Regions from separate parts of the Homo sapiens genome. Here regions 1 and 2 are each linked to region 3. Evidence: fine-mapped QTL for protein levels in blood plasma. Region 3 holds a variant in brackets. A gene starts in each other region. All regions are shown on their reverse strands.

The links. A credible set is the group of variants that fine-mapping cannot tell apart. PIP is the chance, under the fine-mapping model, that this variant and not a neighbour inherited with it causes the effect. The UK Biobank Pharma Proteomics Project read protein levels with antibody pairs (Olink). The fine-mapping took linkage between variants from a reference panel, not from the people measured, so its PIPs are less certain.
Region 1: CD300LF starts here. The variant in region 3 is the best candidate, but not a certain one, in a credible set for the plasma level of the CD300LF protein (UK Biobank, PIP 0.58).
Region 2: FCRL6 starts here. The variant in region 3 is the best candidate, but not a certain one, in a credible set for the plasma level of the FCRL6 protein (UK Biobank, PIP 0.53).

The regions. Positions count from the first base shown.
Region 1 is chr17:74,710,541-74,714,642 of GRCh38, reverse strand. CD300LF (CD300 molecule like family member f) reads left to right here and starts at 1,720. Exons shown (of 7, transcript NM_139018.5): 1 at 1,720-1,819. The coding sequence starts at 1,777. It also overlaps a transcript of RAB37 not described here.
Region 2 is chr1:159,800,736-159,804,834 of GRCh38, reverse strand. It overlaps FCRL6 (Fc receptor like 6), which reads right to left and starts at 2,475. Exons shown (of 10, transcript NM_001004310.3): 1 at 2,380-2,475. The coding sequence starts at 2,410. It overlaps LOC105371464 (a long non-coding RNA gene), which reads left to right. Exons shown (of 3, transcript XR_922195.2): 1 at 1-2,297; 2 at 2,688-2,887.
Region 3 is chr12:111,443,535-111,447,617 of GRCh38, reverse strand. It overlaps SH2B3 (SH2B adaptor protein 3), which reads right to left. Exons shown (of 8, transcript NM_005475.3): 3 at 764-865; 4 at 585-676; 5 at 399-493; 6 at 74-288. It overlaps LOC124903019 (a long non-coding RNA gene), which reads left to right and starts at 2,873. Exons shown (of 2, transcript XR_007063462.1): 1 at 2,873-4,083. RefSeq lists enhancers at 2,214-2,483, 3,234-3,353. The variant A/G (reference allele first, on the strand shown) is at 814.

The sequences.
Region 1 (4,102 bases), not on the chromosome of region 3:
AATGAACTGGTTTCCTCAGGTAGACCCCCTGGTACAATGGACAGGTTTCTGGAAGATTCCAGATGTAGGTATCCCTGGGATCTCACCTGGTGGGCTGGGGTACAGCAGTAGGAGCTTCCTTCGTGTTCTCAGGACAAAGCGCCTCTTGTCAGTGGGCCAGTAGTTCCCTGCTTGCATCTCCCTTCTCTCTGAACCTCTCTGTGCGTGCGTGTGTGTGTGTGTGTGTGTGTGTGTGTGTGTGTGTGTTTAAAGAGACAGCGTCTGCTCTGTTGCCCAGGCTGGAGTACAGTGAACAGTGGCTCAATCATAGCTCACTGCAGTTTCGACCTCTTGGGCTCAGGTAATCCTCAGGCCTTAGCTTCCCAGATTGCTTGGACTACAGGCATGCATGACTCTGCAGAACTAATTATTATTATTATTGTTATTATTTTTGAGACAGAGTCTTGCTCTGTTGCCTAGGTTGGAGTTCAGTGGTGCGATCTGGGTTCACTGCAACCTCTGCCGCCTGGGTTCAAGTGATTCTCCTACCTCGGCCTCCCGAGTCACTGGGATTACAGGTGAATGCTACCACGCCCAGCTAATTTTTGTATTTTTTAGTAGAGATGGGGTTTCACCATTTTGGCCAGGCCGGTCTCTAACTCCTGACCTGGAGTGATCTGCCTACCTTGGCCTCCCAAAGTGTTGGGATTACAGGCATGAGCCACCATGCCTGACTTTTTTTTTTTTTTTTTTTTTTTTTTTTTGTGGAGATGAAGCCTTGCCATGTTGCCCAGGCTGGTCTTGAACTCCTGGCCTCAAGTGATCTTCCTGCCTCAGCCTCCTAAAGTGCTGAGATTACAGGTGTGAGCCACCGTACCTGGCCTTGTAGTCTGGGGTTGGATACCCAATCTCCTCATAGCTGCCTTCCAACCTTTGGTCTGGAATCTCTCCTCTGGCTTTCTGACTTTGGCCACAAGTGCCCCTCAATCCTCTTGAACTTCTGGCCTTCTGGGCTCCCAAGCATCTGGCTACACCTGAAGCTCCAGGTTTAGGACATCGTGTCTATCAGCCGTGGCTCTCCAGGACCCCTCTGGTGGAGCCGCGTGCCCCTGCCCCCAGCCAACCCACCAGGTTTGGAGGATTGGATAAGGGCTGGCCAGACCCAGTGGATCTGTCTGCAGGTTTCCACATGACAGAGGAGCCACGAAGTTCTCTTTTTAGAGAACCCACGGTGGCTGTGTACAGAGAGGTACTTCTCAGAAGCTGATGATTCCTGTGACCCCTTGCATTGTCAACTGCCTCGAAATTTCACCCTTTCCACCTCCTTCCTCTTTTTTTTTTTTTTTTTGTTTTTGTTTGAGACAGAGTCTTGTTCTGTCACCCAGGCTGGAGTGCAAGTGGCACGATCTCGGCTCACTACAACCTCCGCCTACTAGGTTCAAGCGATTCTTCTGTCTCAGCCTCCTGAGTAGCTGGGACTACAGGTGTGCGCCACCACGCCTGGCTAATTTTTGTATTTCTAGTAGAGACGGGGTTTCACTATGTTGGCCAGGCTGATCTTGAACTCCTGATCTCGTGATCCGCCCGCCTTGGCCTCCCAAAGTGCCAGGATTACAGGCCTGAGCCACGGTGCCCAACCAACCACCTCCTTCCTCTTTTAGTCTCTTTCACCCATGGGAAGTGACTGAAGGAGGAAGTTCAAGGGCGAGAGTGAGTACCAGCAGAAGGCTGGGAGTCTGTAGTTTGTTCCTGCTGCCAGGCTCCACTGAGGGGAACGGGGACCTGTCTGAAGAGAAGATGCCCCTGCTGACACTCTACCTGCTCCTCTTCTGGCTCTCAGGTGAGCGGGCCTGGGTCTGTCTTCTTGGGGAAGCTTAGCAAGCAGGAGGAGGTGGCTGAGAGAGGGAAGAAGGGACCCGGCCAGAAGGTGTCCTTAATGGCATGAGCCTTGTGCGTTTCATCCACATACCCACCATTCACCTAGCATTTCCGTTGCCAAGGCAGGAATACAGGGCATGACCTTCATAATGAAGCCAGTGCAAGGCAGAATTCCTGACCCCCAGGGGCTGATCATGTGAAATGGACAGACTGTAGGCCCCGCCGGCCAGGGAAAAGCAGAGGAGGAACATGGGCTGCTCAGGAGAGCAGGCGACTGCCTGATCCTGGACTGGGTGATCTGTCACCTGCGTGGAGGTGTTCTGAGCAAGGGCAGGCGTCAGGGAAGAGGTGAGGCTGGAGGACTTTGAAAGGAGGGAAGAGGGAGTTTGCTGGGCAGAGAGGGAGTGGTGGTTCTAGGCATTTGGGGCAGAAGGAAATAGTAGAAGTTGCTGAGGGACGGAAAGGTCAAGAGGAGATAAGACTGGCAGGGACGTAGAGGAAAGGAGGGACTGAGATGTGGGCAGAGCCAGAGGGCAGGAGACACCTTAAGTTGGTGCATACAATTTTTATTAAAAATGAAGGGAGGCCAGGGAAAGAGGCTCATTCCTGTAATCCCAGCACTTTGGGAGGCTGATTGCTTGAGCTCAGGGATTCGAGACCAGCTTGGGTAACATGTGGAAACCCTGTCTCTACAAAAAGTACAAAAATTAGCCAGGTATGGTGGCATGTGCCTATGGTCCCAGCTACTTGGGAGGCTGGAGGCTGAGGCATGAGGATCACTTGAGCCCAGGAGTTGGAGGCTGCAGTGACCTGTAATCACACTACTGCCTTCCAGCATGGGTGACAGAGCGAGACTCTGTTTCAAAAAAAAAAAAAAAAGAAAAAAGAAAAAAGAAAAAAAAAGAAAGAAAACAAAAAAATAATTTCAAGAAGTGAGAAGTGATAAGTACTGTGAGGAAAACAGAACAAGATGATATGTTACAGTGGGACCCAGGTAGGGGGATGCTGTAAGTCAGGTGGGCTGAAACAACCCCCCTGAAGAGGGTCCCAGATGCCTGTCCGAGCCGAGACCTAGGAAAAGGATCAGACACAGGATCGGGACCAGCTTTCCAGGCACAGGGAACAGTAGATACGAGGGCTCTTGTGTAGGAATGAGCTTGGACTGGGCACGTCTGAGGAAGAGGGAGGTCAGCACGGCTTTGCCTCATGCTTCAGAAGATCCTGGTGGGACAGATTGGAGAAAAGGTCTTGGGGAAGAAAGTGACTTGTCCAGGACTGCTAGGCTGGTACAGGAAGAGCAGGGAGTGGCTCATGGACACTTGGCCCCGAGTTTCAGCATGTAAGTGGAGAAGGCAGACTTTGGGTGAGATGTTATGAAATGCATTGGCACAGTGAGACCAGGACAGGTATGGCTGCTTTTTTTCTGACACCTGGAAATGAGAGAATTTGGTAGTGAGCAGATGTGAGAGTCGTGTTGGGAGTGGGAGTGGTTTGGGACCTCTGTCTGAAGTGGGCAGAAAAGCCAGCAGGCACAGCTATGGGCGCCAACATGGAGCCCGGATACCACTGTGAACCTGCATGCATCAGCTCTTGCCAGCCTCTCCTGCAGAACTTCCACCCACAAGCAGCAAGTGTGCTTACCCTGTTTCCCTCTTCTAAATAATTTATCGTTTTAAAACACCCAAGAAAAAAAATACCCATCCGGAAGTTTGTTTTCTGTGAGAAAGGAAGGTTTTTTATTTTTTTTGAGTTGGGGTCTCAGTCTGTTGCCTAGGCTGGAGTGTGGTGGCATGATCATAGCTCACTGCAGCCTCAACTCCTGGGCTCAAGTGATCCTCCTGCCTTGGCCGTCTGAGTTGCTGGGATTAAAAGCATGAGCCACCGTGCCTGGCAAGAACAGATTTTTTGTTTTTTTTTTTGAGACAGAGTCTCGCTCTGTCACTCAGGCTGGAGTGCAGTGGCGCGATCTTGGCTCACTGCAACCTCTGCCTCCCAGATTCAAGTGATTCTTCTGCCTCAGCCTCCCAAGTAGCTGGGATTACAGGTGTGCCAGCATGCCTGGCTATTTTTTTTTTTTTTTCGTATTTTTAGTAGAGATGGGGTTTTACCATGTTGGTTAGGCTGGTCTCGAACTCCTGACCTCAAGTGATCCACCCGCCTTGGCCTCCCAAAGTGTTGGGATTACAGGCGTGAGCCACCGCGCCCAGCCTCACTGTGCTTTTTTTCCATAAGTCTTTATTGTTTC
Region 2 (4,099 bases), not on the chromosome of region 3:
TCCCCACCTCACTGGAAAACAATTGTGCAGCTACAAAGTGCTAAACAAACAGGGTTGAGACTACTGAAGCCAAAAACAAGACAGAAGGCACTCAGGAAGCATAGATGCACTTAAAATGAGCTCCTGTCCCCAAATCTCAATGACTTGCTCCCCATGGTACTGCAAGATCTTGGAGGTGGGATTACAAAATTGGTTTCTGCAATCAAAACAGCAGCCAACTGGGAACATACACAGGGGGTGACACCTGCTTACAGCAGTTCCTGCAATGAGGGCCCAGGGACCTCCATTAGCTATAGGCTGAAGATGAGGTGACAGTATCATGAAGTGGCCAAGAGCTATGGTCAAACCAAGTTGCGTAATAGAATTCCGAAAAATGAAGGCAGGAGCCCCTGCCAACTCTAGGAGCAGGATAATTTCCTCTTAAAGTTTCTGAGGGATCGGGAGATATTTATCTGGGAAAGATGCAACAGAGGAAAGACACAAAATACTTGGTGGGCTAAGCTTAAAAGAAGGGGGAGACTTATTCTGAGTTACTTTATAGGACAGAAATGGAAACTAGAGGGATCATGGAGGCAGATTTCGGCTCAACATGAAGAACTCTCTCACCACTGAGCTCTAGCACTGTGGAACAGGCTGCAGTGCCAAGCTGCAGCAGTCACATTGCTGGGAGGGCTGTATGGGACCCCATGACACCTCCTATGGACGCTGTGTGAGAATGCGGGGAGCAGCCTCCAGTGGTAGGAGGGAAGTTGGCTAATGTTCAGCTCAGAAGAAAATTAAGCCTAATTTCCCAAACTTTAAATACATATTTCACATTCAGCCAGGTCCCCACATGCTCAATGTCAGGATTCCTTTCCTCCCGGAGCCCTGACAGCCAATAATAGTAATAGCCACCAATTTATTATGACCACACCCTGCTCTTGAGAGAGGAAATAGCAGCTCTACACTTATGGTAAGATAAATGTTGCTACACACCCAGCCCCAGTGTCTGTGTTTTAGGCTGTTTTTCCAGGGTCCCTGAGCATCAAGTGGGACCAAATTTGCTGGTGCTGGATTCTCCATTACACTGTGCACCAGTCAGCCGGTCACTGATTCCCTTCCTCTCCTCATTTGCTGTCTGTCATCCTCGTCCTGGGTTCCAAGCTGGAACACTCTCAGACTGTATCTAGACAAGTCCAAGGGCTGTTCCTTTTACAAGGTAGTGCCGGTAGTGCCATTTGCCCCTGGGAGTCTTCTGCCTGGAGTATATCCAGGCATTAGGCTATCCTGTCCCCGCCTCAGTGTGAGCATTAGACCTTTTCATTTGTCCAAATGGCCATTCATAGAACACACGAGTAGCATGCTATGCTGGAGAAGGAACATTGAGTGGAAGGGGCATTTTCCTCACAGGGTCAAATTCTCACAAACTCTGTCCAGGAAGAGGTTATATTTAGGAACAGTTTTGCTTTTCTAGTTCAAGGAATACAAATAGCAAGCAAGCTATTGGGACCAAGAATTAAACAAAAAGTAGGTCCACTTGGAAACTGTAAAGTGAAACAAAATATATGCCAAATTATTTCTTTTAGGTATAAGGGGGGTGACACTGGCTGAGACTGAGCTGGGTCTGGGGGAGCCCAGTGACCCTCTGCGTGCAATCCTCTACCCTTAGACCAGCTCTCTTAGTTACAAGTAGCCTGCATGAGAAGAAATGGAGAGAAGAGAGAGAGAGACATGGATCAGACAATGGAGTTGATTCTTCAAACCAGCCCCATGGATCTGAAACAGCTCCCAACAGAGAGAAGATGTAGGCGGAAGAGAGACAGTCAATTTGAAAAGGGCTTTGGTTACTCAGAGCACAGGCCTTTCAACCAGGTGAGAGGTCTGGCCATTGTTACCTGGTTCTAAGAAAATGCTGAGGCTCCATAAAAATATGTCACCCTGTAAAATTCCACCTCCCATTGCTGAGCAAAATGCCTGGGACTGTTTCCCCTCATTTCCCTGACTCCTTCCCTGTTGCCCCCAGCAGCCTCCTTCCCTCCTGCAACCTCCATTTCCTTTTGAGACAGCTCTGATTAGTATTTTAACCTGATGTCACAAGGTAGAAATGTCATTGGGAAGTTAGGGGACTTTGTAATGTGATTTTCTGCCTCCCTAATTTATCTCTGACATATCAAAGGGCTGCGCTGCCAAGGACCCAGGACTACGGGGTAGGAAACACTGAGGAGTTTCTCCTACCCCAGTGCCCATCTCTCCCAAGCATGCCCAGGTGCACACACCTGTCTTGAGCTCCAGCCACAAACCCACTGGAATTGGGAAAGGTAAGATGAGGAACTTGGTGTCTCAGGGATGACTTACGGTCCTTAGTGCTCCAAGAGGGGATGCCCATGCTCGTTGACTTACCAAAGAGCAGCACAGCCGTCCAGAGCAGCATGGGGCCTGTTCTGGCACAGCGGAGGGAACACAGGTCAGAAACAGGTCAGGGCGAAGCCGGCAGAGAGCAACCAGGCCTCAGGACCGAAGGTGGGTGGGTGGCCTGAGCTGGGTGGTGCTATAGCTTGATAGCCAAAATAGGAAGTGGAAAAGAAACTTACAAAGCTCTAATTGATATTTCCTCTTTGGTTGAAGAAGTATTACATGAATAAATTTTCCTGAACACTAAGTATGAAGGAGTCGGTAAATCACTAATAAATCCCTGACATTTTCTGCAGCTTCAACAAGCCTATGCCAGGGAACTAGGATGGAACATGGTTATGGGACACCTCCATTAGAAAGGTCCAGAGACTGCCCGAATTTGCTTGGCTTCAGCGTCATTCAGCCTGGGAGACAGCGCAGCACTGTAAAACTAAGATCATCTACCCCTTGACCACCGAGTGACCTCCCAGCTTCCAAGGAGCTCCTGTCTCCAGAGGTAAATGTGTGTGGATGCTGCAATGCGATGGAGAAGTGGAGCCCTGAGGATGCTTCACAGGATCCTCAGTTCAGGAGGGAATCAGACATCGATGAGTCTGGAGTAGAACACAGATGGAGCTTCGGCATCTGAGGCTTTTAAGACTGTCAGTATGATTTTGAGAACTATTCCTTAAAAGACACCATTAAGAGAAGGAACAGGCAAGCTGTGGTGTGATGAGATAGTTTAAATACATGTAGCTGACAAAGGGCCCACAGAAGAAATATAAGAATTTCTGCAAGTCAGTAAGAAAAGGACAGACAACATACTAGAAAAATGGGCAAAAATAATTGGATAGGTACTTCACAGAAGCAGATATCCACGTGTCAAATCAACATAGCAAAAGGAGCTAGACATCATAAATCACCGTGGAAATGCAAATTTAAACCATAATAAGATACCACTACACCTTCCATAAGAATAAGGGAGTGATACCAGCTGAGACTGAGCTGGGTCTGGGGGAGCCCGTGACCCTCCCCATGCAATCCTCTACTGAGTATTGGTGAGGATGTGAAGAAACTAGAACTCTTGTACACCACTAGTGGGAATATAAATTGGTACAGTCACTAGAAAATGGCTTGGCAGAATCTACCAAAACTAAACACAGGGATCCCTGATGGCTCAGCATTTTCACTCCTGGGTAAATGTCAAACAGAAATGTATACATATAAGCCTGAAAAAACATATACAAGAGTGCTCATAGCAGCATCATTTGTAATAGATAAAAACTGGAAATTATTCAATGTTCCCTCAACAGAAAAAGAGGTCACACATTCTCATCTCCTCTGTGGACAGAACATGGGAGTTCACGGTGAAACACAGAGTCAGGCAAAATACTAGGAAGCATTTTCATTTTCTTGTTTCTTTTCTTTCTTTTTTCTTTTTTTTATTGAGAAGGAGTCTTGCTCTGTTGCCCAGGCTGGAGTGTAATCTTGGCTCACTGCAACCTCCGCCTCCCAGGTTCAAGTGATTTTCCTGCCTCAGCCTCCCATGTAGCTGGGATTACAGGCATGCACCACCATGCCTGGCTAAGCATTTTCTGACAGTAAAGTTCTTCCTGGAAATCTTTAAGTGAGAAGTTCTACATAGTCTGATGGAATTTGATGTGCCTATTGCTGAGGCCAGGAATGGACAGAGAGAATTTTCTAAGTTTTCTTGCCCTAGATTGTCTGA
Region 3 (4,083 bases):
TAGGACCCTGAACTCCAGTGGAGAGGGGTGGCACGGTCCTGCCTGCCCCACCCCACCCCACCCCACCCCATACCTTGGCTATCCCCTGAAAGTTGAAAGTGAGCACGTATTCCCCACGCCGCGTCTCGCTCTGCCGCACCAGGAACACTCCATGAGCATCAGGGCCCTGCAGCTGAACCAGCTGAGCTGCTTTCACTCTGGAGATGGGGCCGTGGAACCAGGGGTAGCAGGACAGGAAATGGTCCGTCTTCTGGCAGGCCGGGTCCAGCAGCCCCCCAGGAGAAGCACCTGTTAGATAAGATGGGTGATGGTGGTCGCAGGGGGCTACCTTATGTCCTGGGCTGAGTCTGGGTTCCAGCGTACCCAGAAGACAATGGCCTAGCTATTGGTTTACCCACCTTGGTTAAGGGAATCTGTGCTGCCCCTTGGGGAGCTGGACGTGCTAGGCTCTAGGGCTGAGGGAATATGCATCTCTGCTTCTGTGCTCTCCAGCCTGCTGGAGAAGAGGCTGAGGTTAAGGATCTGGGCAGGTCAGGGGTGGTAGCAGCAAAGGTGGTGCCAGGGACGAGGGCCCAGGACCTCACCCTCGGCCTGTGCACTCCGAGAGCTCAGCCATCCATGAATTCAGCTGCTGCTCGTCTCCCACCTCAAAGATGATGTCTGTCCGGTCCTTCACCTGGCAGGGAGGAAGGGAACAGGGTTGGGTCTGCTGTATGTGTATGTATTTGTATTGCCCCAGGGTGTGAAAAGCCTTGTCACTCACCTTCAGCACAAAGGTGTAAAGGTTGTCAGGCATCTCAAGCCGTGTGCACC[A/G]CCGGACCTCCTGGATGCTGGAGCAAGCTGCTTGTAGCTTGGGCCTTGAACTCTACGAGACCAAGTTGGGGTACTCAAGGCTTGTTCCTGATGCTCTTTCTTCCAGCCAGGCCTGAGTTTGTCTATAGTCTCCCCAGGAGTCCCCCTTTTAGAGAGAGTATCCATGGTGTTGCTGGGCAGGCTCTGAGCCTGTAGTGAGGTCCAGGGTGCCTTCCCCTAGCCTCCTGAACACCATTCACACTGAGATCCCAAGAAGCATGTGCTGGCAGAAGGCCAGCCCTCCCAGCCCATTGGACCTGGACTTGGAGACATTCCCACTCTGCCATGTGTCTGACATCCGTTTCTCTTCCCACTGGTGAGCAAACAGCTCCCTGCCCAGCCAGGTGATAGCAGCTGCTGACGGTCTCATCACACCAAGCCCAAAGGGGCAGAGCCTAGCATGGCTAGCCTAAGTTATAGCCACTGTAAAACCACAAAATCTTGGCCCTGGACCTTCCCAGGACACCCGGCACATAGGGCTGCAGGGTGGATAGGAGTTAGCCACTGTTCCTTTGCCAGCAGGAAACCTGCTCCCAGGTCTCAACTGACCCTGCAGATGCTTCCTGTGCTGGGGCACTCTGCAGCCAAGGAGCCAGCTGCTTCCGGTTGGGAATCTGCTCAGGAGGGGGTTTGCCCCTCCCCTTCCTCTTGTGATAAGACTGAAAAGATGGCCGAAAGAAGAAAAGGGGAGAAAGAGATGAGATAAGGAATGGACAGAAGTGGCCCCACTGGGCCCCCTCCATTCAGGTGTTCCTGGAAAATACTACAACCCCTAACAAACTGGGAGCAGGGGGATGGAAAGCAGAGGCAGCCCAAAGGATGTTCTAGCAACTGTGGCTTCAGGTGATCTGACCTCCACCTCAGCCCAAAAGGGCATACCTTGGACTGGAGCTGCTAGTGCTGTTGAATTGACCCCCAAAACCAGATGCTTAACCTTGCTTTACACACAGAGCTGCCAGGTACCTCTGTCGGAAGGATCATGACCCAGTGGCCTGGCCACCTCCTTTATCCCCCTTCCCCACCTGCAGGAGAGTCAATGAACAGTGAGGTAAGAGGGCAGCCTGGCAGGAGCAGGATGGCCACCTGGGCCCTTCCAGCAGGTCTCCTGGGAGCTCCCGGGCCTGCTCTGGTTGGCGGACACAACAGGCTGGGGGAGAGTAATGACTGCAGGAATGACCAACACTGGCCACAGCTCACTGCGGCCTCTCACTAGAAAGCTGCATGACTAGAAAATTCCAGCCTGAAGTGACCAGCACCAGCCAGGGCATTTTCACCTCCTACTCCCAGAGGTCCAGCAGCCAGGATGAGGCAGGCAGAGTGAGGCCTCACATGGCATCCACACGGGCACTGGACACAGCGCAGTGTGCAGGGAGTGGGGCCTCTGCGCTCTTGCCCATTTTTACAGCCAGCCAGCCCTGCAGAGCCTTCATTTCCTGTCTGCAAGATGGGTAAGGTGCGAGTGGCCACTTCCTTCTGCTACTTTTCCAGTTGGCCCTGCCTGGCCCCCACCCTTCCCCCTAGCTGCAGGCCTTAAGGATCACTGGGAGGATATAGGCCAGGCCTGGAGGGGAACGGGCCTAGTCTCCCTTTCAGTTCCGCTCCAGGCCTAGTCCCCAGTGTCAGTGCTGAGATTAACCAGCAGAGCTGCCGGTTTCACTCTGACTCTGGCCCCTGCAAGCCAGCTCCACCCCCAGCAGCTGAAGAACTGCTGAGCAGGCAGGCAGTGGTGAAAAGAGGATTCCCCTCCTCACCCACAGCCAGCCTGGCTGCCACCTGCCTGCTGGCTGAGCACAACCCAGGGGTTCTTCCCCAACTCCCCACAGCAGCCCTTGAGAGCCGCCCAGGCCTAGAGCCACAATCTCAACCCAAGCCTGCCAAGTATCAGAGCCGGGGTCCGCCACAGCTACCTGGTGGTATGGGTGTCCTATGCCAGAGGCTCCAGCCAGGTTGCAGCGTGTGGGCACATGGGCGCAGGACAACCCCTGCTTCAGTCGAAACCTCAGCCTGGACAGCTCAGGCTCTGGCCACTGCAGGGAAGGACCACCAGATGCCCATCAGATTAAGCTATATGGGGGGATGGGTGAGAGGGGAGACAAGCTCAAACCTGGGGGCTGTGTCAGCAGCTGTGGGGGCTTTAGGTTCCCTCCTCTCACATGCCCGCTATTCCACCTCCCTCAAAAGTCAAGCCAGGCCAGCAACAGCTGCTCCCTGGACCTGCTTAGGCTCTACTGTGGTTGGGTGATCAAAGTGGCCAGATCATTTCAGGTATTTGTGGTTTGAACAGTAGACTGTCACCCACCACATCCTGCAGCGTCTATTTCTGGGGAGCAAGTCTTCTCCATTCCCAGCATCTAAACAGATGGCTTCTGTTTGTTATGGCCACTGTGGCTCCAGTGGGAATAATCTATTTCTTTCTTTGCTCTGGCTGCTAGGAATCTCAAAGTCAAAGACGTAGGCCAGCTCTGACACTACCCCAACGGTAGGACTTGTATTTATTTCAACAGCTAACTTTATCCCAGATGTTATAGTTCTTTTATCCTCTAGGGTTTTTTGTTTTTGTTTTTGTTTTTTGAGACAGATTCTCACTCTGTTGCCCATGCTGGAGTGCAGTGGCGCAATCTCGGCTCACTGCAACCTCCACCTCCTGAGTTCAAGCGATTCTCCTGCCTCAGCTTCCGCAGTAGCTGGGATTACAGGCACCTGCCACCACACCCAGCTAATTTTTGTATTTTTAGTAGAGCTGGGGTTTCACCATGTTGGTTGGCCAGGTTGGTCTCGAACTTCTGACATCAGGTGATCCGCCTGCCTTGGCCTCCCAAAGTGCTGGGATTTTAGGCATGAGCCACCACGCCGGGCCCTACCCTCTAGGTTTTAAGATTCAGCCCTGACCCTGCCACTTCCTATACAACCCTGGACAAAGGGTTCGGCTCTCCATGCCTTAGTTGTCATCTGTAATTCAGCTCATTTTTTCACAAGGTGAGCTAACACAAGCGAAAGGCATGACTCGCACAGCTGTTAACAGGCCGGTGAGTAAAGCCTGCTTGGCTCCCACTACACTACTGACAGCATGACAGTCCCCTCTGAGTAGCCTAGCCACTGGGTACACCCCCAGCTTCTCTCAGCCTTACAGAACTATTGCCCCATTTTGTCACATGCTCCCTTACCATCCTGCAATAAATTCCACGTAATATAACCAACATACTACCCTAACTAATTACAAGACAGGGACAA